Homo sapiens: one gene and its partner. The protein of the gene in region 1 purifies or fractionates together with the protein of each later gene. This does not show direct contact. Each region holds a gene or a part of one and is shown on either strand. Other genes may lie near its edges.

Evidence for each region. The genes of interacting proteins can lie anywhere in the genome.
Region 2: the proteins of SRSF12 (region 1) and KIF1C purify together in Homo sapiens (affinity purification with mass spectrometry, with the first as the bait; one large-scale study listed by BioGRID). This does not show direct contact.

The regions. Positions count from the first base shown.
Region 1 is NC_000006.12:89,095,459-89,098,265, forward strand, and holds the end of SRSF12 (serine/arginine-rich splicing factor 12), read right to left. Parts: 3' UTR 501-2,807; downstream 1-500. UniProt on the Homo sapiens protein: Splicing factor that seems to antagonize SR proteins in pre-mRNA splicing regulation.
Region 2 is NC_000017.11:5,007,950-5,011,449, reverse strand, and holds part of KIF1C (kinesin-like protein KIF1C), read right to left. Parts: intron 1-3,500. UniProt on the Homo sapiens protein: Motor required for the retrograde transport of Golgi vesicles to the endoplasmic reticulum. Has a microtubule plus end-directed motility.

The DNA.
Region 1 (2,807 bases):
GCAGGTGTGAGCCACCAGTCAGCCAGAAATTTAATGTAGTTTAGAAGGATTACAAAAGTATTTCTACATACCTTTAAATTTTGACTAATTTTGCCTCTGGCAATGGGATCAAAATAAATGCAGCAATTCTTATTTGTAATGCAACAGCATGTCTTAGAACAGTTAGATCTCAAGTAAACTTTACAAATAAAGTACTGGAATTAATTTACATTTAAAAATAAATTAGCCCAGTGGCCTAAAATTAAATCCGAGGCTCCAAATAAAAATTTCAGCAAATTCCCCTATTATCTGTTAACACCGAAAAATATCAGCTGCTATAAATTATTTGTGCATTATTCCTGGGGAGAAAGCAAGCAAGCCGCTGTCATGGCAGTCTCTATTTTCTTTGACCCTAACTTATCCTCTATGATCCTGAATAAATGGTAGGTAGTACCCCTGCACTAAACTTGGGAAGTACTTAAATAAATATAGTCTCTTTAAAAGAACTGATCACAGATGTCTAAAATTAAAACGTTTGATTTATTAATAAACAAAGTATCTCTCTTAAATGGGCCAAGAAACAATTCTATGACAAAAGTGAACCCTGGAATATAGATATTCCCAGAAGACAATTTTCCAGGATACCCAGCCAAACAATTTTCACCTAGTCACAAAAGTCATTTTCATCGAAGCCTACAGTCATTCCTTTTTCTAATTCTATTCTCTCATTTCTTTCTAAACATGATTTTAATAAAGCATATACCTGTCAAAGACTTCTCTTTGCAAAAGACATAGGAACAGCAGTCAGGAAGAGGACTCTGAAGCCCAGTCACTCCACAGATCCAAAGTTTATGGCTGTGTGCCCTTGTAACTTAGCCTCTCTGCATCTGTTTCCTTGTCTGTAGTGGTACTAGGTTGGCGCAAAAGTAATTGCGGGATATTTACCTCATAAGAGTGTTGATGGTTAAATACAAGAGTGAATAACTTAAGACATATAGAACAGTGCCAAGCATGTACTAAATGCTCAAAAGAGTTTGAGCTATTATCATTCCAGCTTTTTCATCAAACCAAATGGTATCCTCCTAAGCAGCCCAGGGATTACAATGACAAACCTAGTCAGAGGTAAATCAAAGGATTAAATATGTTCAGGAATACAGAGATTTGTGAATACAGAGTAAAGATACTATAATCAATCCCTAGTTATTATTTTTCACAATGGTACCTAGTTATTATTATTTTTATAGATAAAGGGGTCTTGCTATGTTGCCCAGGCTGGTCTCAAACTCCTGGGCTCAAGCAATCCTCCTGCCTTGGCCTCCCAAAGTGCTAGGATTACTGGTGTGAGCCACTGTGCCCAGCCCCTAGTTTTTAAAATGATTTCACTTATGTGTATGAACCCAAACATTCTGAAAATACTAAAAATTTCTATCAATATCTGTCTTACTCATTCTTCAGATTATCCTTTAGATTTTCAGTAGTGCCACATAATTTTATAACTAAATTTTATTATAGCGGAATAATTCAAAGAGTTGTAGTTTTGAAATAAATTTTGCTATGATTAGAGAAAATCTATTCAGAAAGTACAATATACATTAATTTATGGCACTTGTCCAAATATTACCAGCATACAAATTATTGTTTAAGGTTGTTTCTTACATATGGGATCTAATATGCAAAGAAAACTGGAATTTGTATTCAAAACAAATAGAAGCAACACTGGCTCCTATATACTAAAAATATAAGACAGATTTTTTTCTTAAACACTCTGGATACAAATACTAACTGTATGGATTGAGAACTTTGAAGTTTTCATAATGTAAGTCACAAAGTATACAAGTAGAGCTCTATAAATATATCCCCTATAATAATCATATGCAAAACCATTCTATCACAAACACTACCAAAACCCTTTGAAAAACATAAACTACAACACATTTTCAAAGAAATTATTAGTTATAACAACTACAAAAGCAATAAATATCAATAAAGTTATTTGGCTGTCAGAAATGAAGGGCAGTATAATGTAAAATTCAAATACTGCAAAGTTGTTTTTTGAAGATGTAGTCTCGAGTTTCTTCTTCTTCTTTTTTTTAAATTTTAGAGACAGGATTTCACCATGTTGCCCAGGCTGGTCTCAATCTCCTGGCCTCAAGCAATCTGCCCGCCTCGACCTCCCAAAGTGCTGGGATTACAGGAGTGAACCACCACGCTTGGCCAAGTTTCTTAATACAAGGTACTAAACACTCTTTCAAAAATAATAAGACTTGTTCCATATAAAGTTGAGCAAGAACTCTAAAAAGAAAAAATTAAGCAACAGATGAAAAGTAGGTATGTGGAAATAATGGTATCAAATATGATTTTATACAAAATGTACCATTCTTCAAATGTGTAAGTCTTAATATGAATATTTTTGGATTGTGAGTGTTGCTCAGCCTAATTTTTAAAGAATTAGTCTCAAACCATTCAAAATCCAGTATTTCTCAAAAGTTCTGATATTACTAATGTGGTCATGGTGCAGGATGCAATTTCATGTCAACTTACCTATACTGTTCTACCCAATAAAAATATAACCTTTGAGCTTAGGAGAGAATGTATCTTTTGAATGTTTGATCTCTATATATATTCTACTTTTTGGAACATCAGAATTTTGTAATATGAACTAATATCCACCAGGAATTGGCCCAAGTTTAAACAGAAGACACAAAAGAGACATAGGTGTCAAACAGCTTAAGTCTGCTCTATGCAATTATACAGTCATAGTTACTTTTTACATGAAAGTGCTTTAAAGTCAAAAATATTTGTGTAAAAGGTATTATTAATAGTACTAA
Region 2 (3,500 bases), on another chromosome or scaffold:
CAAGAAGCTGCTCAGGCCCAGGCTGGGGGTGAGAGCCCCAGGGTCTGGTCCTGTCCCTATCCTCAGCCCCTGAGAAGGCAGCTCAGAACCAGGTTTGAACACCACTGATTTAAGCAATCCTTAGCCCTGGTGGTGGGGGTCTTAGCAAGAGGAGGCTCCCTCCAAGACAAACTGTAGTTTTTTCCTCTAAGACCCAACTATTCCCTGTTGGAGCTACTCACACCAAACCCATTTCCCCATGAGTCTAACAGTTCTCTCTTCTGGCTTTAGACCACATGGCTTTTAAACATGAGAAGAGTTCATCCTCACCACCTTGAGAAAAATGTAAAAGTGAACTACCTTAAGACACCTTCTCACCAATCACACAGGCAAAGAGAAAAGTCTTACTAAGCCAGAATGTGGGAAAGGGCGAGGGGAAATGGGCTCTCTTGTATGTTACCCTTGGGAGTATAAATTGGTATGGTTCAAAAAATTAGCCAGGAGTGGTGGTGGGCGCCTGTAGTCCCAGCTACTTGGGAGGCTGAGGCAGGAGAATGGCGTGAACCCGGGAGGCGGAGCTTGCAGTGGGCCGAGATTGCACCACTGCACTCCAGCCTGGGCAACACAGCAAGACTCCATCTCAAAAAAGTAAAATAAATTGGTATGGTTATAATCTTCAGAGGGCACTTTGGCAATATAGATTAAAAAAAAAATTTTTTTTTTTGAGACGGAGTCTCGCTCTGTCACCTGGGCTGGAGTGCAGTGGCATGATCTCGGCTCACTGCAAGCTCCGCCTCCCGGGTTCACGCCATTCTCCTGCCTCAGCCTCCCAAGTAGCTGGGACTACAGGTGCCCGCCACCACGCCCGGCTAATTTTTTCTATTTTAGTAGAGATGGGGTTTCACCTTGTTAGCCAGGATGGTCTCGATCTCCTGACCTCGTGATCCGCCCGCCTCGGCCTCCCAAAGTGCTGGGATTACAGGCGTGAGCCACCGCACCCGGCCTAGATTAAAATTTTACATGGCTACCATTTGACCCAAAATCTCCATTTCTAGGAATCTGCTCTACAGATAACACCCATTTGTAAGACTATGCATTGTAGCCTTTTTTTGTAGTATCAAGGAATGGGAAACAATCTGAATGTCCATCAGTGGGAAGCTGGTTAAATACATTATCCTACATCTACACAATAGAATACCCTGACACCGTGAAAAAAATAAAGGAAGCTTTAAAATAAGGTATGCAGGCCAAGCACAGTAGCTCACACCTGTAATACCAGCACTTCAGGAGGCCAAGGCCAGTGCATCATTTGAGGCCAGGAGTTTGAGACCAGCCTGGCCAACATGGCGAAACCCTGTCTCTACTAAAATACAAAAATTAGCCCGGCGTGGTGGTGGGTGCCTGTAATCCCAGCTACTTGGGAGGCTGAGGCATGAGAATCACTTGAACCTGGGAGGCAGAGTTTGCACTGAGCTGAGATTGTGCCACTGCACTCCAGCCTGGGCGACAGAGTGTGACTCTTGTCTCAAAATAAATAAATAAAATAGATATGCAACTACAACTATTAGAGAGGCCGTGAATGTGAGTAAATGTGTATAGTTCTATATAACATATGCCTGTACATGTGTTATAACATCTCCTAGACAGCATCTCTAGGAGAACATTTTTTCTTTTTTTTTTTTTTGAGACAGAGTCTTGTCTGTCACCCAGGCTGGAGTGCAGTGGTGCGATCTCAGCTCACTGCAACCTCTGCCTCCCGGGTTCATGTCATTCTACTGCCTCAGCCTCCCTAGTAGCTGGGACTACAGGCGCCCGCCAGCACACGTGGCTAATTTTTTGTATTTGTAGTAGAGACGGGGTTTCACTGTGTTAGCCAGGATGGTCTCAATCTCCTGACCTCGTGATCCACCCGCCTTGGCCTCCCAAAGTGCTAGGATTACAGGTGTGAGCCACCAGGCCCGACCCAAGGAGAATATAGTAAGAACCCATAATGGGCCTGGCACGGTGGCTCACACCTGTAACCCCAGCACTTTGGGACTCCGAAGTGGGTGGATCACGAGGTCAGAAGTTCAAGACCACTCCGGCCAACATAGTGAACCCCATCTCTACTAAAAATACAAAATATTAGCCGGGTGTGATGGTGTGCGCCTGTAATCCCAGCTACTTGGGAGGCTGAGGCAGAAGAATCGTATGAACCCAGGAGGCGGAGGTTGCAGTCAGCCAAGATTGCACCGTTGCACTCCAGCCCGGGTGACAGTACAAGACCCCGTCTCAAAAAAAAAAAGAACTCATAATGAAGGCTGCCTCTGAGGGGAAACTTAAGGGTGGGAAGGATGGAGAGTTACTTTTTTTTTTTTTCTATAACAAAATGCTGTAAATTGGAGACTTTTCACTGTACACACCTTTTAGAACTATTAGAATGTTCTCTCTGGTGTGTATTACCTTTATAAGAACAATTAAAACAAGAACCCCCTCCTTTGGTCCCCAGGCTTTGGCAGGTGGCATCTCTGCAAGCTCTCCAAGGAAGAAACCTCCACCCCACCAGTCTCCCCAGTCCTTTCTGCTTTTCCTCCATCCTTGCAACCGTGGTGGAAGCGGCCCAGCTCCAGGTATACAAAGGTGGCTGGAAGCCATGCTGAGCGCATCCGTAGCCCCTCTTTCCACCTAGGTGTGGCTGGGTCCCAGAAGAGTCTGGATCCCTCAGAAGGACCCCAAAGCCCCAGGGTACCCAGCCCCAGACAAGACCCCAGACACGCAGCCTGGCCTACCGCCCACAGCTCTTTCACTCCCTCAATGTGGCTTGGGCCAGGCAAGGCAAAACCCCTCTCCTCTTTTCAGAACAGGGGTTCAGTGATCCCTGCTTGCTTAGTCCCCCAGATGGACCTGACTTTACAAAACAGAGAGGAGCCTTCTTCTGGTAACCCATCACCTCTTCCAGGCAGCCCCCAGTGACACTGTCTGGCTCAGAGCACAGTGTATCTGACTTAGGGCCTGATCCTCTGCTGCTTCACACCATGGTCCAGACGGGCTGGGCTGGTTCCCTGGTGGAACTGGAAGTTCATGCTCTGCTCAAACTGGCCTCTGCACCATCCCTTCACTGGTATACTGGCCTCTGCACCATCCCTTCACTGGTATGCACCGGTACAGCGGTGCTGGCTGTCTATATCCAGTGTCCTTTCTGACTGGTCAGTCCCTATGCCGGATGGTTATTAATATTTGGAGTATCATTCCTGCCTCCACCTGAGCCTGACCTCTCCCGCCCTGCTCCTTCCTTCCTTTCAGCAAAGATTTATTAGGTACCTAAAACCTGGCGGCAGGCACGTGTCAGGCACTGGCGTGTCCCACTCACCCCAACATGTACCCCAGGCTCTTCAACCTCATGTTGGCCCTACTCCTCCATACTTCCCAAGTCCTGTCCATCTTTCAGGTTCCACTTTCCAAACCACCTTCTCCAGGAAACCAGTTGCAGCATAGCTCCAAGCTACACGGGTGCCTCCATCTATAACCAACCCCTCGCTGCA